Regions from separate parts of the Homo sapiens genome. Here regions 1, 2 and 3 are each linked to region 4. Evidence: fine-mapped expression QTL. A gene starts in region 4. Each other region holds a variant in brackets. All regions are shown on one strand. Distances are from middle to middle. Region 1 has its middle 30 kb from the start of FBP1. Region 2 overlaps FBP2 (fructose-bisphosphatase 2). Region 3 holds the start of FBP2 (fructose-bisphosphatase 2). Region 4 holds the start of FBP1 (fructose-bisphosphatase 1).

Evidence for each region.
Region 1: its variant is fine-mapped to the expression of FBP1 in whole blood (TOPMed, PIP above 0.99).
Region 2: its variant is fine-mapped to the expression of FBP1 in whole blood (TOPMed, PIP above 0.99).
Region 3: its variant is fine-mapped to the expression of FBP1 in whole blood (INTERVAL, PIP 0.98).

Annotation. Positions count from the first base shown.
Region 1 is chr9:94,665,834-94,673,861 of GRCh38, forward strand. No RefSeq gene overlaps it. Among named protein-coding and RNA genes, the nearest start is that of FBP1, 30 kb to the left of the region's middle. RefSeq lists an enhancer at 3,267-3,406 and a silencer at 3,394-3,688. The variant T/G (reference allele first, on the strand shown) is at 4,042.
Region 2 is chr9:94,578,926-94,586,953 of GRCh38, forward strand. FBP2 (fructose-bisphosphatase 2) reads right to left here. Exons shown (of 7, transcript NM_003837.4): 3 at 5,652-5,744. Among named protein-coding and RNA genes, the nearest start is that of FBP2, 11 kb to the right of the region's middle. The variant G/A (reference allele first, on the strand shown) is at 4,022.
Region 3 is chr9:94,589,144-94,597,171 of GRCh38, forward strand. FBP2 (fructose-bisphosphatase 2) reads right to left here and starts at 4,681. Exons shown (of 7, transcript NM_003837.4): 1 at 4,414-4,681. The coding sequence starts at 4,583. RefSeq lists an enhancer at 2,148-2,690. The variant A/G (reference allele first, on the strand shown) is at 3,770.
Region 4 is chr9:94,636,488-94,644,515 of GRCh38, forward strand. It overlaps FBP1 (fructose-bisphosphatase 1), which reads right to left and starts at 3,031. Exons shown (of 7, transcript NM_000507.4): 1 at 2,654-3,031. The coding sequence starts at 2,823. RefSeq lists a silencer at 3,105-3,164.

The DNA.
Region 1 (8,028 bases), 29 kb after region 4:
GGCGCCACGAAGTCCAATACCCAGGAACAGAGGATGGGGAATGTGACCCACAGAGCTCAAACAAAATGACAAAGGAGACCACTTGGGTTCTAGGGCAGCAGATCACATTTGCTTCTTCCAAAGAACCAGAAAGCTTTTTAAAAAGCAAATGGAATAAAGATGTGGATGAAAAGTTTTCTCCCTGGGATAAGTGGATGGGGAGGAAGAAAATGAAAAACAGGTAAATTGCTGAAGAAAAGGCAGTATAGTGAAAAAATCAACATTTAAGAATTAATTATATGCCACTTTTCAAGAAATAAGCATAAGACACCAGAAAAATACGAATTTAGTGAAGGTCGAACAAACACTTTTTTCCCAGTGGCTATGAAAGAGAGAAGCAAGCATCTTTAAACGCTGGCAATTATGCAGATGGCAGAAAGAATAAAGACTGAATTTCATTCCCACATAAGGGAGAGTATAAGGGAGAGTATTAGGGAGACAAAAAGCAACCTGAAGCGTTTACAGTTTTGAGTGAGCGGACAGCCCAGCAAGCATTTAGAACTCATTATCTGAGCTGTGAAAAATGACCCTCAGAAATCACTGAAATTAATCAAGAAGTTAAACATTTATTAAAAACAAGCTTAGAGATTATAGGAGAAAGGTCGAGTCCAGAGACTCCAACAAAGCTGAATCAGCTGATTTCTGGGCTGTGAAATGTGTGGTGCTCAATTTAGGGCACAAGGTTCAGATGCAGGTAAGGCCTCTGGAGCCCCGTCGGGCCGGACCTGAGCCTGCATATGGGGAAATCGCTGTTGTTGTCAGCCGCTCTTGCAAAAAGCTGATGATGTGGCTGTTGAACAACCTGGGACCCTTGACCCTGCCATGACGTTTGTACCAATGTGGGTGTCTGGGTGACATTCAAAATTAAATAAATCAAACTTAAATTACCAAGTTCTAGACTCCAATGTCCAGGGAAATGCCACATTTTGCTGTGGGCGACAGAATTTTGCCCCCTCCACGCTTTTTGTCATAAGGGTCAAATAAACAGGATCATTGAACAGACAGAGTGGGCTCTGATGTGCTTCTCAGCTGGACACTGAACACGGGCAGTACTGTAGTGATGTCCCCAGGAGCGATTGTGCAGGAGTGAGGTGGGGCAGACGGCTTTTCCTGCTGGCTGCTGAGTTGGTGCCATATACATCTCTGCTGCCCGAGGCAGGAGTAACATTGAGCCAATACCATATCCTGTTGAATTTTGCCAAAATGAGAACGCACAGAATCCTCAGATGGTCAAGTGGGAGAAACAAAAAGAAAAATGTTCTGTCCTCCTACCTTGGTCTAATTATTTACTTTCTTTCTTTTTTTTTTTTTTTTTTTTTTTTTTGAGACGGAGTCTCAGTCTGTCGCCCAGGCTGGAGTACAGTGGTGTGATCTCAGCTCACTGCAAGCTCCGCCTCCCGGGTCCACGCCATTCTCCTGCCTCAGCCTCCCGAGTAGCTGGGACTACAGGCAACCGCCACCACGCCTGGCTAATTTTTGGTATTTTTAGTAGAGACGGCGTTTCACCGTGTCAGCCAGGATGGTCTCGATCTCCTGACCTCGTGATCCGCCCGCCTCGGCCTTCCAAAGTGCTGGGATTACAGGCATGAGCCACCGCGCCCGGCGATGTTTAGAGTTTTTTTAAAATCAGGTTACAAAATGGTGTAAGCCAAATTAAAATGTACAGAGAAACCAAAAGAGGACGGCAACATGCCTCAGTGAAATAGTGACTGCATCTGAGTAGCTGTTTTTTCTGTTTCTTCAGACTTTGCTGCACTTCCCCAATCCTCCATAATAGCAACAGCAGAAGCACAGCCTGTGGGGCTAGCCTTGCTTTAAGCATTAGCTGCTGTTATTCCCAGCGTTGTTACTCGTATCATCAAAAGTTGATAAACTGAAAGCTGAGAAAAAGACCAAAGGTTAGAGGGAAACATTTAGAAATGTGTTAGAGACTTGTTTTTAAAGAAACTTTTAATTTTGAACGAATTTTAGGTCTACACTGCAAAGATAATTTAGAGAGACCCTTCCCCCCGTCCCGGTTTCCCCAGTTGTGAACATCTTACATCACCGTAGTACATGTGTCAAAACTAGGAGATTACGACTGGTACATGACTTAACTAAACCCCAGACTTCGTTTGAAATTTACTTGTTTGGCTGGGCGTAGTGGCTCACACCTATAATCCCAGCACTTTGGGAGGCTGAGGCAGGTGGATCACTTGAGGTCGGGAGTTTGAGACCAGCCTGACCAACATGGAGAAACCCTGTCTCTACTAAAAATACAAAATTATCCCGGCGTGGTGGTGGGTGCCTGTAATCCCAGGTACTCAGGAGGCTGAGGCTTGAGAATCACTTGAACACAGGGGGCAGAGTTTGCAGTGAGCCGAGATGGCACCACTTCACTCCAGCCTAGGGGAAAGAGCTAAACTCTGTCTCAAAAAAAAAGAAAAAAGAAAAAAAAGAAAAGTAATTCACCTGTTTTTCCACTTAGGGACTCTTTCTGTTTTAGGAGGATGAGATTTTTGAATGTTAACTAATGTCCCCCTTTTTTTATATTTTAATTGTGAAACATACGTAGAAGTTCATAAAACAAAATGCACTATTTAAAGGAAAATGAAAAGTTCAAGGAATGGAATGATGCCAGTCTCCTGGTATCCTTTTTCTGACTCGCCACCCAGAGGTAATCATTACCCTGACTTTTATGGCAATAATATCCTTGCTTTTCTTGGTAGTGTTACTGTCCAGCTATAATCTCCTCAGTAAAGTAGTTGTGCCTGTTTTTGAACTTTATGTACATGAACGCATGCTGTATATTCTTTTGTTCAAGGTTATCTGGTTGTTGTGTGGTGTGTGTGTCTATGGCTCATTCATTTTCATTGCTGTGTGGTACTCGACTGAGATGCTCTTTGATATTTTCTCCTGCTCCCTGCCCTTCCCTAATCAAATAGACCTTCTGCCTCCATGTCCCAGGGATGGCAATATAACCACAGAAAATCAAATTAAAATTATTTATTATTATTTCAAAAGCCCACATCCTCACGGATTTAAACGAGATTTATAGCAGGATTTCTCAACCTCCACCCTATTGACGTTAGACCTAATAATTCATTTGTTGTGGGGATGTCCTGTTCAGTGCAGGATGTTTAGCAGCTTCCCTGGGCTCTACCACTAGGTGCCAGTAGCATCCACGGCCCTCCAGTTGTGAGAACCAAAATGTCTCCAGATATTATTGCCAAACATCCCCAGGGAGGCAAAGTCACCCCAGATGAGAGCCACTGTGAGAAGAAGGAAAGGAAAAAATCAGTTGGGGAAAATGCAGACTGCAGAAGCAACCTGCCTGAAAAGTTACAGCAACAGGCAAAAATGAAACAACCTTGGGGAAAAAAAAAAACAAAAAACCTCAGGCTGCACCTGCGCACAGATAAGCAACTTAGTGAGCTCCCAGGAAAAAAGTTTCTTCCCTTTTTTCAGGCATATATACGGTGGAAACTTGCACAGATGGGGAGGGGGCTTACCTAAAACAAACCCACAGTTAATACAAACTAGAAAAGCAGAATTCGTGATGGCCTAGAGACATACCCACGGCTGCGTAACAGAAGGGGAATTGCACAGACAGCTTTACTGATAAGAGAAGTGACTCAAACTGCTAGAGATAAGAGTTTCTGATAAAAGCTTTTGAACTCAGCTGTAACCCCGCAATCCACTCGGAATCCTCTCTCCTCTGCAGAGAGCGTTTTTTCTGTCACTTTTTTTTTCTTTTTCCTTTTTTTTTTTTTTTTTTTTTTGAGATGGAGTCTCTCTCTGTCGCCCAGGCTAGGGTGCAGTGCCGCAGTCTCGGCTCACTGCAAGCTCCGCCCCCCGGGCTCACGCCATTCTCCCGCGTCAGCCTCCCGAGTAGCTGGGACTACAGGCGCCCGCCACCTCGCCCGGCTAATTTTTTTGTTTTTGTTTTTGTATTTTCAGTAGAGACGGGGTTTCACTGTGTTAGCCAGGATGGTCTCGATCTCCTAACTTTGTGATCTGCCC[T/G]CCTCGGCCTCCCAAAGTGCTTTTTTTTTTTTTTTTTTTTTGGAGACAAGAGTCTCGCTCTGTTGCCCAGGCTGGAGTGCAGTGGTGCAATCTCGTCTCTACTCCAATAGAAATGTAATTGGTTTTTGTATATTGATCCTGTATCCTGCAAACTTGTACTTGTTACTAGCTCTAATAGGTTTTTTTGGTTTGTCTTTGTGTGTTCTTTGGATTTTCTATATACAAAACCATGTCATCTGCAGATGCAAAGAATTTTGCTTCTTCCTTACCAATCTGGGTTCCCTTTATTTCTTTTTCTTGACTAATTGTTCTGGTTTTATTTTTTTTTTAACAATTTTCTCTTAAGCTTCTCTTCTGCCAAGCCATGGAATCATGTTAGTAGTCAGTTTGGGATCTTCCCTGCTTTCCTGGAGTTGTGTCTAATTTTTTTTTTTTTTTTTTTTTTTTGAGGCAGAGTCTAGCTCTGTCGCCCAGGCTGGAGTGCAGTGGTGCGATCTCGGCGCACTGCAACCGCCGACTCCCGGGTTCAAGCGATTCCCCTGCCTCAGCCTCTGGAGTAGCTGGGATTACAGGCGCCTGCCACCATGCCCAGCTAATTTTTTGTATTTTTTAGTAGAGATGGGGGGCTGGGCGCGGTGGTTCACGCCTGTAATCCCAGCACTTTGGGAGGCTGAGGCGGGCGGATCAGCTGAAGTCAGGAGTTCGAGATCAGCCTGGGCAACACGGTGAAACCCCATCTCTACTAAAAATACAAAATCAGCCGGGCATGGTGACACATGCCTGTAATCCCAGCTACTCAGGAGGCTGAGGCAGGAAATCGCTTGAACCTGGGAGGCGGAGGATGTGGTGAGCCGAGATCGCGCCATTGCACTGCAGCCTGGGCAACAAGAGTAAATCTCCGTCTCACCAAAAAAAAACAAAGAAAACAAAAAAGGAAAGAAATTAAGAAAACAATCCAATTCAATTAACAATAACATCCAAAAGAATGAGATATTGAATAAATTTAACAAAAGAAATGTGAGTCTTGGCCGGGCATGGTGGCTCACACCTGTACTCCCAGCACTTTAGGTGGCCGAGGCAGGCGGATAACGAGGTCAGGAGATCAAGACCCTCCTGGTTAACACAGTGAAACCCCATCTCTACTGAAAATACAAAAAATTAGCCAATGGCCGGGCATGGTGGCTAACGCCTGTAATCCCAGCACTTTGGGAGGACGAGGCGGGCAGATCACAAGGTCAGGAGGTCGAGACCACGGTGAAACCCCGTCTCTACCAAAAATACAAAAAAAATTAGCCAGGCGCGGTGGCGGACGCCTGTAGTCCCAGCTACTTGGGAGGCTGAGGCAGGAGAATGGCGTGAACCTGGGAGGCAGAGCTTGCAGTGAGCCGAGATCGCGCCACTGCACTCCAGCCTGGGCGACAGAGCGAGACTCCATTTCAAAAGGAAAAATATTAGCCAAGCGTGGTGGCGGGCACCTGTAGTCCCAGCTACTCAGGAGGCTGAGGCTGGAGAATGGCGTGAACCCGGAAGGTGGAGTTTGCAGTGAGCCGAGATCGCACTACTGCACTCCAGCCTGGGCGACAGAGTGAGACTCCGTCTCAAAAAAGAAGAAAAAATCAAAAGTGTGAGTCTTGTTTACTGAAAACTATATAATATTTTTGGAAGAAACTAAAGAAGAATTAAATAGAAAGACATGCCATGTTCATAGATTGGAGGATAACATCATTAAGATGATAATCCTCCTCAAATTAGTCAACATAATCCCTAACAAAAGCCTACCTGCTTTCTATGCAGAAGTTGAAAAGTTGATCTTAAAATTCATATGGAAATGCAAGAGACCCAGAATACACAAAACAGGCCTGAAAAAGAACAAAGTAGAAAGACTCACATTTCCACTCCAAAGCTATAGTAATCAAGATGATGTGGTGCTATTGTAAGGATAGACATAGTGATAAATGGAATAAAATTGAGAGTCCAGAAATAAACCATTACTTTCAGGATTAATTGATTTTCAACAATGGTGATAAGACAATTCAATGAGGAAAGAAGAGTCTTTTAAAGTAAGGATGCTGGGGAAACCACACACATCCATATGCAAAATAAAAAAGTTGAACCCCCCACCTCACACCACATACAAAAAAAAATTCAAAATGTATCAAAGACCTAAATTACATTTAGAGCTAAAACTATAAAACTCTTAGAGAAAAATACAGATGTGAATCTTTGTGACTTTAACTTAGGCAATAGTGTCTTAGCTGTGGCACCAAAAGCACTAGCAATTAAAAATAAACAAATTGAACTTCATCAAAATTTTAAAATTTTGGCCAGGTATGGTGGCTCACGCCTGTAATCCTAGCACTTTGGGAAGCCAAGGCGGGTGGATCACCTGAGGTCAGGAGTTCAAGACCAGCCTGGTCAACATGGTGAAACCCTGTCTCTACTAAAAATACAAAAATTAGCCAGGTGTGGTGGCACACGCCTGTAATCCCAGCTACTTGGGAGGCTGAGGCAGGAAAATTGCTTGAACTTGGGAGGCAGAGGTTGCAGTGAGCCAAGATCGTGCCACTGCACTCCAGCCTGGGCAACAGAGCAAGACTCTGTCTCAAAAAAAAAAAAATTAAACATTTCGTGTGGCAAAGAACACTAATAAAAAGTGAAAAAAATACACAGAATGGGAGAAAATATTTGTAAATCATATATCTGATAAATAACTTGTTTCTAGAATATATGAAGAACTCCACTAAACAATAAAAGGGCAATAAAAATGAGCAAAGAATTTGAGTAGATATTTCTGCAAGGAGAATATACAATGGCCAGTAAGCACAAGGAAAGATATTCAACATCATGAGCCATTAGGGGAATGAAAATCAGAACTACAATGAGATACTACTTCCTACCTAGTAGGATAACCATAATTTTAAAAGACAGACAATAATAAGTGTTAGCAAGGATGTGGAGAAAATTGGAAACCTCATACACTGCTGGTGGATATATAAAATGGTACAGCTGCTTTGGAAAACAGTCTGGCAGTTCCTCAAAAAGTTAAACAGAGTGACCATATGGCCTAGTAATTCCACTCCTAGGTATATACCCCAGAGAACTGAAAACATGTGTCCACTCAAAAACTTATACAAAAATGTTCATTGAAGCATTATTCTAAATAGCCAAGGAGTGGAAACAACACAAATGTCCATGAATGGCTGAACAAATGGAATACTATTCATCAATAAAAAGAAATGTTACAATATGGAGAAAGCTTGACAACACTATGTTAGGCTAACAGCCATGTATTGTATGATACCATTTATATAAAATATCAAAAATAGACAAATCCATAGAGACAGAAAGTAGATTAATAGTTGCCAAGGGCTGAGGGCAGAAGGAATGAAATTACAGCTAATGGGTATGGAATTTCTCCTTGGGGTGATAAAATGTTTAAGAATGCAGCCATAAAAAAGAACGAGGTCATGTCTTGCGGGAACATGGATAGAGCTGGAGGCCATTATCCTTTGCAAATTAACACAGGAACAGAAAACCAAATACTGCATGTTCTCACTTAGAAGTAGGAGCTAAATAATGAGAACTTATGGACACAAAGATGGAAACAACAGACACTGAAGTCTACTTGAGGGTGGAGGGTGGGAGGAGAGGGAGGAGCAGAAAAGAGAACTATTGGTTACTGGGCTTAATACCTGGGTGATGAAATAATCTGTGTGACCAACCCCCATAATACGAGTTAACCTACGTAACAAACCTGCACTTGTATCTCTGAACTTAAAATAAAAGTTGAGTTTTGTTTTGTTTTGTCTTGTCTTGTTTTGTTTTGAGGCAGAGTCTAACTTTGTCACCCAGGCTGGAGTGCAATGGCACGATCTCGGCTCACTGCAACCTCCGCCTCCCAGGTTCAAGTGATTCTCCTACTTCAGCTTCCCAAGTAGCTGGGATTACAGGCGCATGCCACCACACCTGGCTAATTTTTGTATTTTT
Region 2 (8,028 bases), 58 kb before region 4:
ACCTGTAGTCCCAGCTACTCAGGAGGCTGAGGCAGGAGAATGGCGTGAACCCGGAAGGCGGAGCTTGCAGTGAGCGGAGCTTGCACCACTGCACTCCAGCCTGGGCAACAGAGAGAGACTCTGTCAAAAAAAAAAAAAAAAAAAGGTTATTTTAAAAGAGAGAATAATTTTATATATTAAAAAAAAAACTTGGCCAGGCACGGTGGCTTATGCCTGTAATCCCAGCATTTTGGGAGGCCAAGGCGGGCAGATAACGAGGTCAGGAGATGGAGACCATCCTGGCTAACATGGTGAAACCCCGTCTCTACTAAAAATACACAAAATTAGCCGGGCGTGGTGCCGGGCGCCTGTAGTCCCAGCTACTCAGGAGGCTGAGGCAGGAGAATGGTGTGAACCCAGTAGGCGGAGCTTGCAGTGAGCCGAGATTATGCCACCGCACTCCAGCCTGGGCGACAGAGTGAGACTCTGTCTCAAAAAAAAAAAAAAAAAAAAAAAGTTGTATGGTAAATTCTTGTCCTAAAAATAATGACTGATATCTAAAGAAACAAAATTCAGGACAAGTCAAAAAGTTTAAGCATGTCATAAATGGTTTGTATAAATTGTATTAAAGTTTGTGGAGAATTTATAAAAGAATTTTGCATGTGATTAAGTTACCTATAATTAAAAGGGGATTCTTTATAATAGCCCCCTATGTTTAAAGCAAGGTTGTCTGTCTTAAGGTATTTATTTGCTCCTAATAACAAGAAATTTTACTTTTATAACCTCTTTCTCTTAAAAACTTCTCAGAATCATATCTCAGAAGTTTGGCTTTGCTGTGTCTTGCTGCTTTCAGCTTTTTCTCCCCTTGAGAAGGCCTGAGAGGATAACTCTCTCATTCAGCTTTTTCCTCAACTCTTGTGATCTTTTTCCTCCAATTTTATTATTATGGCCTGGCACTAAAACATTTTATCTTAAAGGTCTAGAAAAGCAATGTTTTCCTACATTATTACTTGATTCTGTACTTTCCTTGATATGTCTAAATTTGTCAATATGATTAGAAAGCTTCTCATGCAGTTACTGAGAATTATCTATTTCCCTGATACACTCACAGTTTGACTTCCAGGTTATCCAAATAGGCTTCCCCTAAAGAGAAGCAGCTACACTGCAGGTTTTTCTTTCCCTGTCTGGTAATTCACTTAAGAAACAACATTTTACATTTTATCAAAATAATTCCTATGTTGTCTTTATTAGGTTTTAATTGCTTAGAAAAGTTGAGATCTAAAAGGGTTAAAGTTTGTACAACCATATAACGTTCTGTATTGCCTTTTATTTGTTTGTTTGTTTGAGACAGAATCTTGCTCTGTTGCTCAGGCTGCAGTACAGTGGCACAATCTCAGCTCACTGCAATCACCGCCTCCTAGGTTCAAGTGATTCTCATGCCTCAGCCTCTCAAGTGGCTGGTCCAACACGCCCAGCTAATTTTTGTATTTTTAGCAGAGACAGTGTTTAGCCATGTTGGCCAGGCTGGTCTTGAACTCCTGGCCTCAAGTGATCCACCTGCCTCAGCCTCCCAAAGTGATGGGATTACAGGTGTGAGCCACCATGCCCAGCCTGGATTGCCTTTTCAATCTTTCAATTATCACTCTGGTTAAATGAGCAACTATTGTTTAACAATGACCTACAGTTCTGTTTTAATCAATTGTTTTGAGCCTTTTAACATCTTTAACTTTTTCAAAATTGAATCCTAAATTAAGTTTCTGACTTTCTGCTGGGGTTTACCAAAGCTATAAAAATTAATCACCACTAGGTTTTAAAATCATTTTACAGGTTCCAGACAGGTCAAAGTCTCTAGTATCACTACCTCTAGTCCCTAAAAAAGGCCCTTATCAGGTACTATTAACAAATCCTTGTGCAGTTAAGTTACAGGGCTTTGACTCCTGGGTGCACATATTTCATCTAAAGAAGGCATTGGCTCCTGCCAGTATCTGATACCAAACTCAAGCTAACCAAAGCCTTGTCTCTGGATCCAGGCAAAGGTGACAATCAAAGTCACCTGCTTTAATGAGACACAAGGACAGCCTTGTAGTCAAAACCAGTAAGATTAATTTATTAATTTTGCCTCTGTCTAAAGTAATATGATTTATTCTATGCCTTAATACCAAATAATTAAAATGCTTAACTACCTATAAGCCTCCTTTCCTGTCATTCTCAGAACTAGGCTGGGCTTATGATACTTTAAAACATTACTAATTCTTTGTATTTTGTTTTACCTCCAGAATTGAAACTATTCAATCCCCCAGGCCTAAAGACTATAGTGGAAGAAGTGAGCGTCTGACATAGTAAGGGCCAGTCTTATGGGATCAAATTAATTCAGAGCCTCCAAATCCAGGACGGACACAGAGAGGCTTCAACAGCTGAACAAAAGGCTTGTGTTTTGTGCAGCTAAGTGCTACTAGCCAAGCTCACAGTAGCTCGATGTATAGATTTGTAGATAAGTCAATTTTGGAAGCTTGCCTTTTGGCTTTGGGTTTTTGGCTTTTACATTGCTTAAAAGGGGTTTTAAGGTTAATGAATGCCTGGCCACCTCCATTCCCATCTGGCCTGGAACATTTAACTGGCTTCCACTGTTTTGACTCTAAGTCCCTGGGCCATAGGGGTCCCATCGAGGAACATCATGGACCCTGGGAAGGTAACCATACCACCCCAGCATCCACATGGGACAAAATAAAAGCTTGGCCATCAATACTGCCCCCGGAATACCTTGACAAAAAAGGGAGAATATAAACTAAAATAAAATCCTAAGCCTCTCAACAGACTGAATGGACCTGCCTCTTGGCCGAAGGAAATCCCCAGATAAACTGAAAAACAAGTTCAGGCCATGGCAGGAAGCGGGATCAGACAGGCCTCCCTATACCTTCCCCCACTTTTTGGAATTAGGCACAACTGAAAACCCTAAGATTGACAAAATAGGCTGTTTGTCACAATAAAATACCCAATTAGAAACGGGACCTAAGGCCACGCCAGGCAAGGGTTAGTCACTCACTCCTATTTTGAAGAGGAAACCATGTCCTAACTGCCATAGGTTTTTCTTTTTCTCTAGCAGCCAAACAAGCGCTGGCCTTAAGATCAGCTGACTAACTCACCCCCAGGCTCTTGTTCCACCAGCCAAGACTACAGCTTTAATTAGACAAAAGACTAAATTTCAGTAGCTCTCCTGATAAAAGACCACCAACCATGGGCTAGGTCTGGCCAGTTTACAGAAAGCACACACTGTGTGCCTTTATGTCCTAGAAAGATCTTTTGATATACAGGACCTAAATGGAATACATTCCACCCCAAAATAAACATGGGTCATACATGCATATTTATTCAATACACATATGTCAGGACCATCTTCATAAATATTCATAGCTCCTCCTATAATCTGTTAAATATGTGTGTGTGTGCGTGTGTGTGTGTGTGTGTGTGTGTGTGTGTGTGTGTATAGTTTGTTTGTTTTGAGAGGGAGTCTTGCTCTGTTGCCCAGGCTGGAGTGCAGCAGTGCAATCTCAACTCACTATAACTTCCACCTCCAGGTTCAAGCAATTCTCATGTCTCAGCCGAGTAGCTGGGACCACAGTCACATGCCACCACTCTTGGCTAATTTTTTTTTTTTTTTTTTGAGACGGAGTCTCGCTCTGTCACCCAGGCTAGAGTGCAGTGGCGCGATCTTGGCTCACTACAAGCTCTGCCTCCTGGGTTCACGCCATTCTCCTGCCTCAGCCTCCCAAGTAGCTGGGACTACAGGCACCCACCACCACGCCCGGCTAATTTTTTTGTATTTTTAGTAGAGGCAGGGTTTCACCATGTTAGCCAGGATGGTCTCGATCTCCTGACCTCGTGATTCGCCCGCCTCGGCCTCCCAAATTGCTGGGATTACAGGCATGAGCCACCCTTCCCAGCCCCCTTTTTTTTTTTTTTTTTTTTTGAGACACAGTTTCACTCTTGTTGCCCAGGCTGGAGTGCAATGGCGCAATCTCAGCTCACTGCAACCTCTGCCCCC[G/A]GGTTCAAGCAATTCTCCTGTCTCAGCCTCCTGAGTAGCAGGGATTATAGGCGCCCGCCACTATGCCCAGCTAATTTTTGGTATTTTTAGTAGAGATGGAGTTTCACCATGTTGGCCAGGCTGGTCTCAAACTCCTGACCTCAGGTGATCCACCCACCTCAGCCTCCCAAAATGCTGGGATTACAGGCATGAGCCACCATGCCCAGCCTGTTAAATATGTATATTTTGCCAACCTGTTGTCAAGCCCCACAGGAACCCCAAATATAATTGACAGTGGGGACCATGAAGTATAAGTAAAACTAAGTGCTGTACATACTTCCTGAATAATGCCCAAAACATACCCTCAGCCCCACAAGACACAGAAAAGCAAACTGCTACTATGTCTTAATCCCACAATGTCTTTAAATCATATGGCTTTAGATATCCTAACTACAACCCAAGGCAACACTTGTGCATGAATTAAGGCTGAGAATTAGATATCTACCAGATTATTCTCACAATATAACCCAAACTATACAGGCCTTAAATACTCATATTTCTGCCATAGATTCCCTATCTCAAGACTCTGTAAGAGCACGGTTTAATCAACTTCCTAATACATAGAAGACTCTCAAATACAATGTAACTGGCACTCTGCTTATTTTTCTCTTTGGTTGCTATGGATTGTTTGTTTGAGAGAGTCTTGCTCTGTCACCCAGGCTGGAGTGCAGTGGCATGATCTCAGCTCACTGCAACCTGCACTTCCTGGGTTCAAGCAATTCTCTTGCCTCAGCCTCCTGAGTAGCTGGAATTACAGGCGTGCACCATCACCCTGGCTAATTTTTGTATTTTTAGTAGAGACGGGGTTTCACCATGTTTCCCAGACTGGTCTCGACCACCTAGCCTCAAGGCCTCAAGTGATCCGCCCGCCTCAGCCTCCCAAAGTTCTGGGATTACAGGCGTGAGCCACCGCAGCTGGCGAGGTTGCTATGGATTTTATTGCCGTTGTACACTTTATATAGAATGAAGGACAAGTTTTCTGAATTGTGAAGTTTCTAGTCCTGCTGGATGTCACAAACCCACCCAGCTCTCTGTTGCTAGGATTTCAGGGTAGGCAGAATGGCCCAAAAGATATGCCAGTCCCCAGGATCTGTGAATACCCAGCATTACATGGCAACAAAGACTTTTCAGGTGTACTCAGGGGTTCAGATTTCAAATAGGGAGATCACCGTGGACCTTCCAGGTTAGATTAGTTCAATCTAATCCAATGAGCGTTAGCAGAAAACTTTCTGTGGCTGGGGACAGGAGAGATGAGGCAAGAGGGGGAGAGGATGTCAGAGATTCAGAATGCCACCTGGAACCTAATGCCATGTCTGACATTTGTGTTGCACCCAGACTTTCAAAACAAGATCTCAGCTGTCCTTCTGTGTTACCCTCCCAGGAATGCCAGAAAGTAGGCAGAGAAAGAATCGCCAATCCAGTTCTTCTAATGAGGAGCCCCAGGCAGAGAAAAGTTGGTGGTTTGCCTACAGTGGCTTTTCTCGTTAGTGGGAAGACAAAGGGTAGGACTCCAAACACACGGTTTTCAGCCCAGGAACCTTCCAGAGACCACCACAGGAAGGAGGTGTAAAATGTCAGCCTGTCTACTCACCTTTCTATAGATGGCAAAGATGGTTCCGATGGAGGCCAGGCAGTCAATATTGGAAGATCCATCCAGTGGGTCAAAGCAGACCACGTATTTCCCCTAAATCAGAGAGGAAAGCACCAACTGATCAGCACATCTTCCCATTAGCACAATTGCTCTGTGTCAGGGCTGTGCGTGGCAGAGTACACCACATCAAAAAGAGATTGAGAACCACAGCATATCTTTATCAAAAAACACCATGACTTACGGAGGGCAGGGTGCCAGTTTATACACAAATACTCCTCTGGGTTTTGTATCCATCTCACCTGTCTGATGCGAAGACCAGAAGATAAAGTGGGTGTGTCTTGAGAGACCAACGTCCCCCACACCCACCCACTCTGCTGTCACAGGCAGCTCAAGCCACCAAGGGAAGCCCCAGGTCCTTTTTATAGCCCCCTGTGTGCAAGGTCACGAGAGACCCTTAGTGATGGCGACCGGAACCCCCAGGCCAATTAAACACGGGTAATGCAACTTCAAGAGAAATGAGGGTCATTTCTCCCTCCACTTGATTTAGTTTTCCCTGACTTTCCAATGAGTATTGGCCTAGCTTCATTTGAGCTTTGTTTCTGTTTTTTTTCCTTGCTCAGCCAGAGTAGAAAAGTTAGATAATTTGTAAACTTGGAAATTCCCCAACATCTCTATAATAATCCAATTTTTTAAAAAAAAATCCAATTTAGCCCATTCATTCATGCATGCATGCATTCAGCAGATACATGTTGAGCTTCCAGCATATGCTGGGAAGTAAGTGTTCAAGGCCCTGGGGTTTGTTTCCGGGGGGTCAGCGATCCCGGCAGCAAGGCTGGATTTCATGGCACTGACATTCCAGTGGGAGAACAGACAGAGAGCACACAGGTCAGGACACATACAAGCAGGCTGTGGCACGTGCCCTAACGAAAACCCACATAGGCTGGGGGCTGGAGAGCCATGAGGGGGGGTCACATTTGATGACAGACCTGACTAGAATTAAGGAATGAAGAAACACACAGAGACCTAGAAAGCAAAATTGTTTGTTTTCTTGTTTTTGTTTTGTTTTGACAGAGTCTCACTCTGTTGCCCAGGATGGAGTGCAGTGGTGTGGTCAGAGCTCGCTGCAGCCTAGAGATCCTGGGCTCAAGCAATCCTCCCACCTCAGACTCCCAAGTAGCTGGGACTACAGGTGCACACCACCATGCCGAGCTAAATTTTTATCTTTTGTATCTTTATGTTGCCTAGGCTGGTCTCAAACTCCTGAGCTCAAGCAATTCTCCCACCTCAGACTCCCGAGTAGCTGGGACTACAGGTGCACACCACCATGCCGAGCTAAATTTTTATCTTTTGTATCTTTATGTTGCCTAGGCTGGTCTCAAACTCCTGAGCTCAAGCAATCCTCCCACCTCAGCCTCCCAAAGCACCGGGATTGCAGGCGTGAGCCACCGCGCCCATCCTAGAAAGAAGAATTTTCGACAGAGAGATCAGCAGGTTTGGAGTATTCAAGAGCTGCCACGGGCCAGGCATGGTGGCTCACGCCTGTAATCCCAGCACTTTGGGAGCCTGAGGCGGGTGGATCACCTGAGGTCAGAGTTCAAGACCAGCCTGGCCAACATGGCGAAACCCCGTCTCTACTAAAAACACAAAAATTAGCGGGGCATGGTGGCGCATGCCTGTAATCCCAGCTACTCAGGAGGCTGAGGCGGGAGAATTGCTTGAACCCGGGAGGCAGAGGTTACAGTGAGCTGAGATTGCGCCATTGCACTCCAGCCTGTCCAGCCGGGCAGTAGAGCAAGACTCCGTCTCAAAAAAATAAATAAATAAGTAAATAAATAAATAAAGGAACTGACATGAAGACCTATGTGGCTATGTGGCTTAGGCCAATAGGAGAAGACAATGGTAGATCAGACTGGAGAGAGAAACAAGAGTCATATCAACTGAAACTGAAAGTTGGAAGTAATAGTGTGATGTAGCTAAAATTATGTGAGACGAGGGCAAAAGTGCCTTTTGCAGTACCTGGCATAGAGCAGAGGTTAAATAAATTTGGCTTTACTTTAAATTCTTTTCCATTCCTCCAGCTAATCACAAAGAAATGGCCTCTTGTCTATTGACTATATTGCAGCTGAACATTGATTGAAACTTTTGGCCATTGGCAAACCTCTCTGTATAATAAGCTGTGTGTGAACCCATAGTGAATGCAGACCCTCCCCAGCCGTGCCTTCCTTCACCGACTTCACCATCCTACGAGGTAAGAGCACAGGAGGCTTGTGGTTTTGTTTCTGGACCAGTCTAACAGCTTGTCAGGCACTAAGAAATCTCTGCTGAAACTGTAACCCCTCGCAAAGTGCCGGCTGGGGGCGGGGGTGGAATGAGAAGG
Region 3 (8,028 bases), 47 kb before region 4:
CCATTCTGAGGGAAGCCGTATCCTTCATGTGTCCACCCTGCACCACTACAGCAAGGCTCAGCCACCCCGCCACCCTCTCACGTTCCAACAGCCGCAGATGTCCCTGGGCCAGCACCCAGCAAGCGGCTCTGGTCCTTCTCGCCTTCACTAATGGTGTTCCCACCACAGCAGTGCTCTCTGCCCGGCTTTCTTCCTGCTATTCCTCCTTTTCCTCTCTGGGACGCCTCCCTGGTCCTCTCAAGTGGGCCCCACACACCAGAAACACCCCATCATCCCTCCTCAGTGTTCACCACACTCACGGACTGGCTTCCTGCTGCATGACCTGCTTGCAGAGGGCAGGATCCATCCTTCTGTCTGTTTCTGCAGTGCCCAGACACACAGCCCATGCTCCATGTCTGCTCACTGAGTTATGAGGAAAGGATGGCAAGAAAGGAATTTCCTTTGCCTACTGATGTGAATGCTATTTATTTGTTGAAGGAAATCTCAGGTGGTTCTAACAGGTAGCCAGGGTTGAGAACCACTGATCTACCTTAAGCTGGGGGCAAACTCATTTCCCACCCTCTTCCCTGAACAGCACCCCCACCTCACCCCCCAACACCAACCCCCACCCACAGCACATCATTTGGTGTCTGAGGAACCATGACGTGAGCAGTCAGCTGTCTTGGAAAACACTCCTAGCAGCCTCACCCCAAAGACTGTGCCTCCTGGTCAAGACAAAAGCAAGCAAGCAACAGCAGCAACAAAACTAGGCTGACTGCATCTGAGTTTCAGGGGACCACAAACACAGGCCTTGGTTCGATATGGAATCTGAATGCGCTTGCCACTGGAGGATGAACAGCAGGCCCAGGCCTGCGGTGGGCAGAGCTGAGAAACAGCCTCTGTCCTGCGCTTTGCAAATGCCCCCTCATCCGCCTAACCCCACCCCTCAGCCGACCCCCTGCACCCTCTCTCCAGGCACTGGGCAGCACCCCTCCTCCTAGAAAGAATGGAAACTCACCAGGAGATGTGAGTTCCCGGCAATAGCTTCACCTGAGATGATGGGGGAAAGGGGCTCTCTAGCCCGTAGGACAGTATCTTGCAGTGTTCTGACTGACACTAAAGCTAACTAACAGTCTCTAAAGGAATGATCCCCCACGGCCATGAGAAAGCCAAGGAGAGGCTCCAGGCGGGCACTCCAGCCTCTCTTGTTCCCACCATAAGAAGAGGAAAGAGAAGGGGAAAAGGAGACTCTCATAACTTTTAAATTGCATTCACGGAGCCCTTGCTAGAAAGATCTCCCCAAAAGGAGCCAGGGGCTTGCGGTCCCCTGCCTGGGTGGTGGTGTGTCCGGAATTGGTAGGTTCTTGGTCTCACTGACTTCAAGAATGAAGCCGCGGACCCTCGCGGTGAGTGTTACAGCTCTTAAGGTGGCGCATCTGGAGTTGTTCGTTCCTCCCAGTGGGCTCGTGGTCTCACTGGGCTCAGAAGTGAAGCTGCAGATCTTCGCGGTGAGTGTTACAGATCATAAAAGCAGCGTGGACCCAAAGAGTGAGCAGCAGCAAGAGCGAAAGAACAAAGCCTCCACAGTGTGGAAAGAGACCCAAACGGGTTGCCGATGCTGGTTTAGGCAGCCTGCTTTTATTCTCTTATCTGGCCCACCCACATCCTGCTGATTGGTAGAGCCGAGTGGCCTGTTTTGTCAGGGCGCTGATTGGTGCGTTTACAATCCCTGAGCTACATACAAAGGTTCTCCACGTCCCCATCAGATTAGTTAGATACAGAGTTTCCACACACAGGTTCTCCAAGGCCCCACCAGAGCAGCTAGATACAGAGTGTCGATTGGTGCACTCACAAACCTTGAGCTAAACACAGGGTGCTGATTGGTGTATTTACAATCCCTGAGCTAGATATAAAGACTCTCCACGTCCCCACCAGACTCAGGAGCCCAGCTGGCTTCACCTAGTGGATCCCGCACCGGGGCTGCAGGTGGAGCTGCCTGCCAGTCCTGCGCCGTGCGCGCGCATTCCTCAGCCCTTGGGTGGTCGATGGGACTGAGCGCTGTGGAGCGGGGGGTGGCGCTCGTCGGGGAGGCTCGGGCCGCACAGGAGCCCATGGAGTGGATGGGAGGCTCAGGCATGGCGGGCTGCAGGTCCCGAGCCCTGCCCCGCGGGAAGGCACCTAAGGCCCAGCGAGAAATCGAGCGCAGCGCCAGTGGGCCAGCACTGCTGGGGGACTCAGTACACCCTCCGCAGCCACTGGCCCGGGTGCTAAGTCCCCCATTGCCGGGGGCCAGCAGGGCTGGCTGGCTGCTCGGAGTGCGGGCCCGCCAAGCCCACGCCCACCCGGAACTCCAGCTGGCCCGCAAGCGCCGCACGCAGCCCCAGTTCCCGCTCGCACCTCTCCCTCCACACCTCCCTGAAAGCTGAGGGAGTGGGCTCCAGCCTTGGCCAGCCCAGAAAGTGGCTCCCACAGTGCAGTGGGGGGCTGAAAGGCTCCTCAAATGCCGCCAGTGGTCATTGACGGCTCAGGCACAGGCAAATCTGGTCTGGGCTTGGAACCGCGGTAGTGACAGGCACTGTGCGTGTCTTACGGGGCCGGCACAGTTGAAATCGTCATCACATGCGCTCGCTAACTCTGCAACAACCCTAAGAGTTAGGGATGCTACTATACTCTCCATTTCACAAAGGGAATCTAAGGTCCTAGCAAGAGTAAATCACGCCCATTATCACACGGTAGGAAATGCCAAATTAATAAGCACCTCAATTATCCAGTTCCTAGGGCCACTTTGTCTCCTTGCTCAACCGCCATAAAGTCAGAGTTTTGCAGCAGATAAGCAAGACCCCTACCATGGCAGCCACTGCCTAGCCAAGAGCCCTGCACAGAGGGGGAGCCCAATTTATGTGGATGAATCACCCTGAGATGGACTCAGGCAACCGCATTGAGGATAGCAGGGTCCGCACAGGGAGAGGCAAAGTCCCTGTCTACCGTCACTCAGCAGGGCTGTCACCCACAGGAGCAGAACAGGGCACCGCCTGCCCTCACATTCTGGAAGGCGATTAAATGCAGAGCGTGGCTGTTATTGCCAAATGAGGTAAAAACAGAGCTGAAGCATCCACCCACAGGAAAAAAGCAAGGATAATGCACCGTTAACCTGGGTCCTGCTACTGGGTCACCACCCCTAAATAAATACAGTCTGTGGTGATCAAATGATAATTACATCTTGTAATCTAATGCTATCACTTTTTGTGTTAAAAGCACTTAATTGCTCAGAGTAAATATTTTAAATGATTGGACTTTGTTAGCTCCTCATTTTGAGTCTCTTTCATCCCCAAAATATGTGTTCCTTCAGCTCCTGAGAGGACCTCCCCTGGAATTACTACAAGGGAAGCCCAAAGAAAGCTGGGGTTTTGTTTGTTTGTTTGTATGTTTTGAGATGGAATCTCGTCCTGTCACCCAGGCTGGAGTGCAGTGGTACGATCTCGACTCACCGCAACCTCCATCTCCCAGGTTCAAGCGATTCTCCTGCCTCAGCCTCCCGAGTAGCCGGGACTACAGGCGCCCGCCACCACACCCAACTAATTTTTGTATTTTTAGTAGAGACAGGGTTTCAACATGTTGGCCAGGATGGTCTTGATCTCTTGACCTCATGATCCACCCACCTTGGCCTCCCAAAGTGCCAGGATTACAGACAGGAGCCACCGTGCCTGGCCACCGGATTCTTTTTATTACAGACTTAAACTGGACACTGGGCTGTGACCATCAGCAGTGTAATGTGAACCTGGCCTCATCT[A/G]TGCTCGGATAAAGCACCAAAGAGAACCCTGTGGAAGAAACCTCTGCGCTCCCCTCCCAGGACTAGCACCTCCCGGCTTCCTGCACACCAAGTGGAGGTGAAGATAAAGAAAGAGTCACAGAGAAGAAATAAAACACGTAGCCAGCAAAACACTCCTTTAGATGATGAGAGAGCAGATGCAGGAAGGGGCTCTACCAAGCTTCCTATGTCGTACATAATTTCCAGCTCCTAACATATTTGCAAAGCTTATTACAATAAAACACTCATGTCTGCAAGAGGCATAAAGAGATATTTCACGTCACCCCTCTACTTCTTTGTTCCAGTGAGACTCTCTCTGTGCAAGTACAAGTCATGATAACACAATACATATTTTAATGCAACAAGCCACTGCACTTGGTATCATTATAATAACTGGAAAAATTATATGTGTATTTCTTCATAGCATGTTTTCGTTCCTTTCTCAAAACAAGTCAAAGGCCCCTTTATCAAAGCACACATGATAGGAACTTGAAATGCAGCTTCCATCTAGGGCACACAGGGCCAATAAGCTTTGGACCCAGTTTCTTGCCAAAGCACCTGCAGCTCCCACACCCCTGCCTGGGCCTGGGGTGCTCTGTGCCCCATGCCTGCTCCCCAGGACTCACAGGTGGGCCAGACCGGCCTTGCGCACAGCCGAGGAGATGGCTTTGATGGCCGTCAGCATTGAGTTCAGCAGCTGGGTGAGCTCCCCAGTCCCTTTGGCCTGACGCCCCTTTTCCATAACGTAGCGGGTCAGGGTGAGCATGTCGGTTTCGAAGGGGCTTCTGTCCGTCATTTTGGCTGGAATGCTTCAAATCCTTTTCTCCCGGCAGGAAACCTTGCTTACTTCTGAGGGCTGCAGCTCCGCAGTGTGGAAGCCGATAAGAAATCTGTGCTGGCCCTGCCAGGATCTCTAAGGAAAAGGGCCCAAAACACATGACTCAAACAACTGCTGGGGCCCTCAAGGAACTCCCTCTGGCCTCGGGGACTGTGGCAGCTGCCAGGGAGCCGCAGCAGTCTGTAAATAGGACGGGCTGCCCAGAAACATGGAGCTGCTTTCTCCTGCTGAGCACCCCCTTTCAAGATACCAAGAAGCCACCATTTAGGCACAGGTGGGAGGTGAGAAATCCAGTTGATTAAAAAATGATGCATAAAACCCTCTTATTCCAGGCTCCAAAGGATTCTTCACATATAGTGACTGCAGGGCCTGGCTCTCCCGAGGGCGGAGGTGGCAGATTCGCAGGTTCCTTATCTGGGACGTAGGTCACATAGTAACATAATGGCAACCCCAGAATTCCTTTAGCCAGGGTTTGGAATAAGTTAGGAAAGAATGCTTTTTATTTCCAGTAGGCATGTATGACCAGTGGATATCCACAGTAGAGATCCAGATCCGGAAGAAAACTATTATATTCCTAGCACAGTTCCTGGCACCAGTGTTATTTTGTCAATATCTCTGGATGTCCACTTTTGTAACAAAAATTGCTTGTTAAAAAGGAAACACTAAAGAAGTGGATAAAGACAAACCTCCTCACCACCAGCCCATTCTCCCATCCCACTCTCCAGAAATCACTGCTGCTAGGGCTGGTGGCGGTCTGTGCAGCCAGTAGGCACTGGTGGGGTGCATATGGTGGTGGAAGCACTTTCTCTAGGGCCAGCCAGACCTGGCTGTGAGTCCCAAGCTAGCTATCTGTTGGTTGCATGATTTGAGAAAGTTATTAAACCCCTTGGAACCTCAGTTGTCTCACTCTTAAATGAGCATAACCGTGAAGCATCCATCTTATAGAGTGGCTGCAATGAGATGTACCTAGTATAGTAGGTGCTCAGTACTTTGTTACCTATTATTGCCCTTCCAGTTTTTTTTTTTTTTTTTTTTTTTTTTTTTGAGATGGAGTCTCACTCTGTCGCCCAGGCTGGAGTGCAGTGGCGTGATCTCGGCTCACTGCAAGCTCCGCCTTCCAGGTTCACGCTATTCTCCTGCCTCAGCCTCCCGAGTAGCTGGGACTACAGGCGCCTGCCACGACGCTTGGCTAATTTTTTGTATTTTTAGTAGAGACGGGGTTTCACCGTGTTAGCCAGGATGGTCTCGATTTCCTGACCTCGTGATCCGCCCGCCTCGGCCTCCCAAAGTGCTGGGATTACAGGCGTGAGCCATCACGCCCAGCCGCCCTTCCAGTCTTTCAATGTGCTCACAACTATTGTGCAATCATACATAATCTCATTTCACAAAACAGTACAACATGCACATTTCTCTGAAGGTCTTTTCCCCTGACAGTTATGTCGATTAGAATGTGTTCAGCTGCAAGAAATAGAACAACTAGAGCAATTTACACGTGGGGGTTTATTTCCTCATAGACCAGGAGTGCACTAGGAGGTGGTGGCTGGTGTTCATTCAGCTGTTCTTGGTTCCACTGGGACCCCTCTCTGTCTCGTCTCTGTCATCCTTGGTCGGCTGGATTGTGCCCCTTGCTTGGCATCCTGGGGGCACAAAATGTCACTGCAGTTCTGAACATCTGGCCCACGTTGAAGATGCAAAGAGGGGAGCAAGGGCAGCTCCAACCACATCAGTTCCTTTTTATTAAGAAAGAACAGTTTCCCTGGAACCCATCCTCCCACCCCCGTAGACGTCCCTGTGCACAGCGTCTGCCAGATCAGGGTCGTGTGGTGATGCCTGCAGTGGGAGCTGGGCGCTGGCATTGGATCAACCAAACTGGTTGAGGAGGGCAACCAAATGGTTGAGATGGGCATTGGTGCTCACAATTTATGTGGAAACTTTCAGATAAAACTAACATCTACCAGTAGATCTTAATATGCAGGTTTAAGATCCCAAATATATATATATGTTATTTATATATGTTTTTAGTTCCAGAAAGCAAATATTATGGGAAGATGTCCAAGTCAGCACACAGAGGCTTGGATCATTCCAGCTTGCGGACATTCAGATAATTTAGGTAAGTTGGCTCCTCAAATAGTAATGCAACAAACATCCTTATATTGGGGCAAGTGCTTCAGTAAGATACAACCCCAGAAGAGGAACTGCTATGTGACAATGTTCTAATTCTTTTCGCGGGGGTGTGGGGGGGTCTATCTTCACTTACCAAGAAATATGCTACCTCTTAATAGAACAAATACAGGATCCCATACCCTTTTTGTGATTTTCATTCAATCTATTTCAACTTTCAACACTGAGGTGAATGGATAGATGGAGACAGATGACACCTCTATCTCAGTATGTGGCACACATTAATCCACCCAATTATTTGATCCAGTAGTGCTATTTTTACAGATGAGGAAACTAGGGCTTCCTAGGGATAACACAGCTACTAGCTAGAATCTCAGCCCAGAGCTACCTGAGGTTAGCGTTCTTTCTCTTATATGATACTTTCTCCCATTCTAGGATGCTCCTCCTCCCTAGATGACTGAGCACCATACACGACAATGCACATATGCCTGTTAACACAATTAGAACATAGAATAAGACATGAGCTTAGAATTGAGTTCTAACAAGAGAGATCGCTATGTATAATAAAACAAGAACATCTGCCTGGGTCAGACCAGAGTATTGCTAAATCTATACCCAAAGGAAAGAAGCCTGGGCCGGGAATCAAAGCCCTCCGGGACTCAGATGCCTCAATTTAAAAATGAGATCCAGCTGAGCACAGTGGCTCACACCTGTAATCCCAGCACTTTGGGAGGCCAAGGCAGGGGGATCACTTGAGCCCAGGAGTTCAAGACCAGCCTGGCCAACATGGTGAAACCCCATCTCTATAAAAAAAATACAAAAATTAGCCAGTGTAGTGGCGTGCACCTGTAGTCCCAGCTACTCAGGAGGCTGAGGTGGGAGGATCACTTGAACCTGGGAGGCAGAGGTTGCCGTGAGCCAAGATGGCACCACTGCACTGCAGCCTGGGTGACATTGAGAGTCTGTCTCAAAAAAAAAAAAAAAATGGGATTAGACTTCATGATCCCTAACTGTATTATCTTCACTTAGTTTTAAAAACACACATTTTCGGCCAGGTGCAGTGACTCACACCTGTAATCCCAGCACTTTGGGAGGCCAAGGCAGGCGGATCACGAGGTCAGGAGATCGAGACCATACTGGCTAACGTGGAGAAACTCCATCTCTACTAAAAATACAAAAAACTAGCTGGGCATGGTGGTGTGCACCTGTAGTCCTAGCTCCTTAGGAGGCTGAGGCAGGAGAATTGCTTGAACCTGGGAGGCGAAGGTTGCAGCGAGCCGAG
Region 4 (8,028 bases):
AATAAATAAAACGCATACCTTACGTAGCCAAAATTAACATGCTTCATCCAGGCCCCACCATCAAAATCTCACTATCCAAGGTCCCACTGTCTAAGGTTACTTAGACAGTGGGACACCTCAAAACACATCTTACATTTCTCAGTCTCTCTAGGGGTGTGAAAGGTACTGACACATTTTTTAAACAATATCAGACATGACAAGCCCTTTTTTTTCTTTTTTTGAGACAGAGTCTTACTCGGTCGCCAGGCTGGAGTAGAGTGGCACGATCTGGGCTCACTGCAACCTCCGCCTCCCGGGTTCAAGCAATTCTCCTGCCTCAGCCTCCCAAGTAGCTGGGATTACAGGCGCCTGCCACCATGCCTGGCTAATTTTTGTGTTTTTAGTAGAGACAGGGTTTCACCATGTTGGCCAGGCTGGTCTCAAACACCTGGACTTTGAGTGATCTACCCGTCTCAGCCTCCCAAAGTGCTGGGATTACAGGTGTGAGCCACCACACCCAGTCGACAAGCCCTCTTTTTAAAATATATCCCTGGTCCTCAAAGGCAGTTAAAGCTGTGAGCCACCTATACTAGCTGTAAATTAAAGCTTAAGATTTCACCTGGGTATGTTTCTAAAATAAGAATCCTTAGGAATGTATTATTAAGAGGGGCCAGAGGCAACAGTAATGGAGTCATCACCTTCCTTAACATGTCTGCTTAATATTCAAAAATAAATGTGATCATACCACTCCTTTACATGAATTACCTCCACCAGTCCATACTGTGGGACCAAAGCCAGACAGCCTGCCAGTAAGAAAAGGAATCTAGATTGCAGGATGCGGGGCGGAGAAGAGTTTTTAAGAATGGAGAAATGCATTCCAAACCCAAGTAGCAGGGTTGTATTTGTTCAGGTCAGCTCTGAGCATCATGCGTCTTTTTTTTTTTTTTTTAAGACAAAGTCACGCTCTTGTCGCGCAGGCTGGAGTGCAATGATGCGATCTCGGCTCACTGCAACCTCTGCCTCCTGGGTTCAAGCAATTCTCCTTCCTCAGCCTCCCGAGTAGCTGGGATTACAGGCGCCTGCCACCACACCCAGCTAATTTTTGGTAGAGACGGGGTTTCACCATGTTGATCAGGTTGGTCTTGAACTCCTGACCTCAGGCAATCCACCTGTTTCGGCCTCCCAAAGTGCTGGGATGACAGGCTAGAGCCTACGCGCCCAGCCCATCATGTGTCATTTTTATAGTGTGCATAAGTGCGGGGAATGTTAGTAAAGTGTATGGACAATCTGAAAACCCAGTTACACTTCAGTTAAAAGTGTGGATCAGTTAGCTAGAAAATACCTGCGCACGGCGGCTCATGCCTGTAATCCCAGCACTTTGGGAGGCCAAGGCATCACCGGAGGTCGGGAGTTCGAGACCAGCCTGACCAACATGGAGAAACCCCGTTTCTACTAAAAAAAATTACAAAATTAGCTGGGCATGGTGGCACATGCCTGTAATCCCAGCTACTCGGGAGACTGAGGCAGGAGAATCGCTTGAACCTGGGAGGCAGAGGTTGCGGTGAGCCAAGATCGCACCATTGCACTCCAGCCTGGGCAACAAGAGCAAAATTCCATCTCAAAAAAAAAAAAAAAAAGAAAAGAAAAAGAAAATACCTGTGCACACCAACACAAACGAAAGGATGTTGTGTGACTTACAAAAAACCTCACAAGAAGGGGTCCTTTGAGTCTCCACTCCACTTGACCCCTTGCTACTCACAATGTGATGAGTAGACAAACAGTATCTGATGGGCAGCACCCACCACAGGAGAACTTCTTAGAAATGCAGAATCTCAGGACCTGTCCCAGAGCTATGGAAGGAGGGCACACATCTTACCAAGATCCCCAAATGATTCCTGTGCCCAGTGACGTTCGAGATGCACTCCATAGCGCATTCAGAACCATTCTACAAACCACTTTTGAGCTTTCCACTAATTGGGCAGAGGCTGCACACACCATCATTGCAAATCGATAGGGGTTTTGAAGCCCTGGGTGTTTCCTGTTTCTGGCACAGCATGGCAACTGTCCCAGCAAGGGGCAGCCCACGGGAGCTCCTTTGCACACAAGCCCTGCTGCTCCTAAAGGCTCTGGACACACAGGAGACCTCCCAGCCTGCTTGCGGGGGGGGCGGGGGGGACACTCGCTCCTAACAGGTCTTGTTTCAGGTCAGAGATAACTGGATTAGAAACCTGACTTGGGTCCCTAATTGCAGAAAGAGTGAAGGAGGACAAAGAAGAAATGGGGAAGGAAGGCACCTGAGCTAGCACTTTCCTGTCTGAGGCTAGGGCGGGTATGACGGGCAGGCCAGGTGCCCACACTTGGCCGGCTGAGAGGGGTACGAGGCAGGCTGCTCAGGGCAGAGAAGAGGAATGCAAGATGGAATCAGGTGTACACCTGTGAGACGGACCCCCAGGTGGGCCCCTCCAAGGTCAAGGGAGGAGATGAGGACTTGAGTGAGGCTGAGCCAGCTTCTGGAGAGAGGGGCTACCAGACAGAGAGCGAGAGAGGCGCTCAGACATCAGACGGACAGACAGAGGCTGACGGCAGGAGGCTCAGAGGGCCCAACGTCAGCCCGCCGGGCAGGCTCCCCAGGCAGACAGACAGGACGGGGCCCACCGCCCAAGGCCCGACTCACAGGTGCGCGATGCCCGCCTTGCGCACCGCCGAAGAGATGGCTTTGACTGCTGTGCAGAGCGAGTTGAGCAGCTGGGTCAACTCGCCCGTGCCGCGGGCCTTCCTGCCCTCCTCCATGACGAAGCGGGTCAGGGTGTTGACGTCCGTGTCGAAGGGCGCCTGGTCAGCCATGCTTGAACCGGGTAGAGCGCGGGGCTGCAGGTGCAAGCGGCAGGTGCGGGGCTGCAGGTGCGGGCGGCAAGAGAGGGCAGTAGGCACTGGCCGCAGGTGCGGAGCTGCAGGTGCGGGCGGCAGGTGCGGGCCGCGGGACCTGGCGGGAGGACTGACAGACCGACTGCCGCCCCGAGTGTCCGCAGCGCTCGTGGTGCAACTGGGCCAGGCCAGGCGCCGGCGGGTGAATCGCGGAAACCTTTAGACGCGGGTCGGCCCCCCGCCCCCGGGAACACTCTTGCGCCCCGCCTACCCCGCGGACCAGACCGCGGCTCCGCCTGCTTGGATCTTCAGACAAGGTCGGGGATCCTCCCTGCGGTCTCCCAACCCCCGCCCCCACGCGCCCTGCCGCCCCCTAGTCTTCCTGGGCTGTCGCCCCCCACACACACCCCTCCGTGCCCTCCACCCGCACTGTGGAGCGGGACTCGGGCCATCGGACTCTGCCAGAGAGAAAGCTATGACTGTTTCCTCCAAAATCATAAAACGGAAGTTCAGAAAGGTTAAGTAACTTGCTCAATGCCACCAGCTAGGCAGCGAAACCCGCAGCCAGTCCACATGGCCTGGCTTTAGCTCTGCAGCTCCTGCCCCGTGTGGCTGCCTGCCCCCGCCCCCTGCCCAAGCCCCGTCCACTCTGCCTGGCCTGTCACCTGGCCCTTCTGTCCCCGCTAGGAGACACAGAGTCCCCGTTTCTCACCCATCTGAGGGCCCACGTCTGAATCCTTAATCCAGGCCTCTTCTCAAGATTCCTAGAATTCGAGAGCTATTGAGTATTTGAATTTCCAAGATGTGAGTCTCGCCCGGAAGTTTCCCGGAAAACGGTCGCTGACACAGAGTCCTCGGCTACCACACAAAGGCCAGAGGGCTCCACCGCCCGCATCCTGACCCCCTGGTAGCCACAATGCTGCAATTGATGTGCTGATTCACGAAACAACACCTATTGAGCACCTGCTGTGCTGAACACTGTCCTACCTTCCAGGGGTGGAGCCTGATCCAAACAGACAAAACTCCTGCCCTTTTCGAGTGTACGTTTTCACAGAGAAACAGTAAAAATAAATATATAAACAATAGATTAGTTTGTTACATAAGCCATAAGTACCATAGAGAGAAACGAAATAGAAAAGGAAGACACGGAATGTGGAGGGGAGAAGAGGGTGAGCAGAGGCCTCAGTAAAAGCTTCTCTGAGAAAGGGATATGTGAGCAAAGAGGTGAAGGATGCAACGCGCCGGTGGAGATGGGAAGGAGAGCGGTTTCCTCACCGGGAGAGCCAGTGCACAGGCCCTGGGGTAGGAGACCATGTTTCAGGTTCAGGGAATGGCCAGGAGACCGGTGGAGCTGAAATAGAGCTAGCAAGGGTCAGAGGTGGAGGAGATAAGGCCAGCGGGAGGATGCAGAGGTGAGGTCTAGAGGGCCAAGTGAGGTTTGACTTTGACTAGGAGGAACCCACTGGAGAGTTTGGAGAAGAAGAGAGGCATGGTCTACCCTGTGTCTTCATACTGCGGCTACTGTGTGAAGATCAGACTGAAGACAGTGCCCTCCAGGTTACTAGGAGATAGTGAGCCAGGTGTTAGCAGTGGAGGTGGTGGATTCTGGACATATTTTGAAGGTAGAGCTGATGGGATTCGTTGACAGATGAGATATGTGAGAGACAGGAGTCTCGGATGATTCTAAGGTTTGAGGCCTGAGAAACTAGAAGAATGCAGTTGTCCTCGACTGCGATGGGGAACACCGAGAGGGGCGTGTGCTGGAGGCAGGACTGACAATTAGGAGCTAAGTGTGGGACCTGCTAAGTTTGAAATGCCTTCTAGACATCCAAGGCAATGTCAAATAGACAGATTTATGTATCTGGAGTTCAGAGGAGAGATCCATGCTGCAGGTATAAATTGGAAAAGCCAACTGGAAAAACCAACCAAAAACCAAGAGATGTGACATCCGGGAAGCCAGATGAAGAAGGTAAGTAAAGGCGGGCTGACCCATGTGCCAAGCGGTGTGGATGGGGCAGGCAGGACAAGCTCTGAAAATTGACTGCTGGATTCACCGTGGAGACCTGGGGTGCAGATTCCTGTGCCCAGGGTTGTCAGATGCGGCGGCGTTGAATGAAGGAAGGTGGTGGTACCACCAGGAAAGACAGCGACTGTCTCCTCAAAGCCCCAGAGGGGACTTAGATGCCTGGCAAAGAGAGTTGATCCTTTAAGGGTCTTATTTAACTCTTTGTTCCTCAGGCAACTTTTCAGGAAAAACCCTGTGTTAAAAAAAATAGTAAGAGAAATACATCCTTAAACATAAAAACTCAAATAGGCCCGGCTCACTGGCTCACACCTGTAATCCCAGCACTTCACTTTGGGAGGCCGAGGCGGGCAGATCACCTGAGGTTGGGAGCTCGAGACCAGCCTGACCAACATGGAGAAACCCCGTCTCTACTAAAAGTACAAAAATTAGCTGGGCATGGTGGTGCATGCCTGTAATTCCAGCTACTCAGGAGGCTGAGGCAGGAGAATCGCTTGAACCTGGGAGGCGGAGATTGCAGTGAGCAGAGATGGCACCATTGCAGTCCAGCCTGGGCATCAAGAACAAAACTCCATCTCAAAAAAAAAAAAAAAAAAGAAAAACAAACAAACTGGAGGCTGAGGCGGGCAGATCTTGAGGTCAGGAGTTCAAGACCAGCCTGGCCAACATGGTGAAACCCATCTCTACTAAAATAAAAAATTAGCCGGGCATGGTGGTGTGCACCTGTAATTCCAGCTACTCAGGAGGCTGAGGCAGGAGAATCGCTTGAACCCGGGAGACAGAAGTTGCAGTGAGTCAAGATCCTGCCGCTGCACTCCAGCCTGGGCAACAGAGCGAGATTCAATCTCAAAAAAAAAAAAAAGAACTGAAATGTGATGACTAGTATTTTTGGCATAGTAACTAGTTACTAGGGGAGAGCTAGAGCTAGTAACTAGGGGAGTGTGCCCCTTTACTTGCCAGACTCTCAGTCCCTCAGGATCTTGGATTGGCTAGGACCGTAAAAGTCATCTAGTCCAGCCAACCCTCATTGGACACCATCCCTGATAAGAGGTGAAGAGCTTGGGATCTGCATTAAGCAAACTTGTTTGAGTCCCAGCTCCAGCCCTCAGCAGCCAGAGATCTCGGACCAGTTACCTAATCTCTGTAAACCCAGTTTGTTCATCCATATAGTGGAATAATGGTTCCATCTGGCAGTGGTGTCATCGGGCTGAAATGAGATGGCATTGGCAGAGTGCTTAGCTCAGAGCTACACACAGGGGACACACTGAATACGTGGAGGAGACCCCTGTCTAGCTCAGTCACTTCTGCTTGTCACCCACGATGATGGGCAGCTCATTGCCTACAAGGCAAGCCATTCCCCTTGGGACTAGGCCACGTCGCATTGTGGTGAAGTGCACAGACTCTGGGGCTGCATGGCTTGGGTCCAAACCCTGGCCTGGCCACTTACTGGCTGTGCAAGCCTGTGCAATTGGCTAAACCTCACCAAGCAACCATTGGCTCATCTGTAAACTGGGGCTAATGATTGTAGCCACCTCATAGGGTTGCTGGGAGAATTATACAGGCAGTGCTGGTAGTGTTTAAGAACAGTGCCCAGCATGTAGTAAGTACACAGTATGTAAGTGTTTGCTTCGTTACATGGGTAGGGCCAACTGTTGTTTTCATGTGAACAGAAGCAAGAAAGTTCCCTGGCCATCAAAAGGGGCTAGAGGGATGTGGGAATTGGCAGCTGAGCCTGTATTTGCCTGGTGTGCAGTGATATCCCCTCCATCATATTGGTCGATTGTGACTCGCTCTTTTCTGGGTCAAGATGCATAAAGCCCATCACCCAGGTATTAGCAAGAGACAGAGGAAGGCGGCCACCTCACATGGGTTCCTGGCCTGTGGGTTGGGCCCCTCCCTCCTCCACCCACCACCCTCGCAGAGTTGCTTCTTGCCACATACTCCAACTTCACATGGGATTGCAGATTCAAGTGATGTGAGCAGTATTACCACATGTGTAACACTCGAAATCCTGCGAAGAATCAGTGCTCATGCATTTCCTCACCCAGCTCCCACGATGGGGTTATGTTGGAGGCGGGCAGTGGAGAAGTAACAGTGTGGACAGTCCCTGCCCCTACAACAGCCGCCCTCAACCCAGGGCTCCACTGCTTACTTTCCCCTCTGTGGGGGCGGTTAGTGCCACAGGAAAGAAAAACAGGCCAGGCACAGTGCACACACCTGTAATCCCAATGCTCTGGGTTGCCGAGGCAGACAGACCACTTGAGCCCAGGAATTTTAAAAGCGGCCTGGACAACATAAGGAAAACACTGTCTCTAAAAAAATTTAAAAATTACCCAGGAGTGGTGGCGCATGCCTGTAGTCTCAGCTACTGGAGAGGCTGAAGGAGGAGGATCACTTGAGCCCAAGAGGTCGAGGCTGCGGTGAGCCGTGATCACAGCACTGCACTCCAGCCTAGGCAATAGAGTGAGAGTGTGTCTCTAACAAAAACACAAAAAGAAAAACAAAAGCCAAGTGGTGTATGTGAGAGGGATTGCAGTAGCATGGTCCTTCCTTAAACACCTCCCCCAGCTCCTGTGGCCCCGGGGGCCTGGTGTGGAAACTAAACAGCAAACATCTATTTAGCACTTGCTAAGGGTGTGGCACTTGCCCAGGGCTTCAGAAGCAGCCTTTAATCAATCCAGAACCACTCTGGGGTGGCTTCTAATCAAACCCCTGTCTTTACAGATGAAGGGACTGAGGCTTTTCTTTCTTTTCCTTTTCTTTTCTTTTCTTTTTTTTTTTTTTGAGATAGAGTCTCACTCTGTCGTCCAGGCTGGAGTGCAGTGGCATGATCTCGGCTCACTGCAAGCTCCGCCTCCCAGGTTCACACCATTCTCCTGCCTCAGCCTCCTGAGTAGCTGGGACTACAGGCCCCCGCCACTTCGCCCAGCTAATTTTTTGTATTTTTAGTAGAGATGGGGTTTCACTGTGTTAGCCAGGATGGTCTCAATCTCCTGACCTCGTGATCCACCCACCTCAGCCTCCCAAAGTGCTGAGATTACAGGCGTGAGCCACTGTGCTTGGCCCAATTTTTGTATTTTTAGTAGAGATGGGATTTCACCATGTTGGTCAGGCTGGTCTCAAACTCCCAACCTCAGGTAATCTGCCCGCCTCGGCCTCCC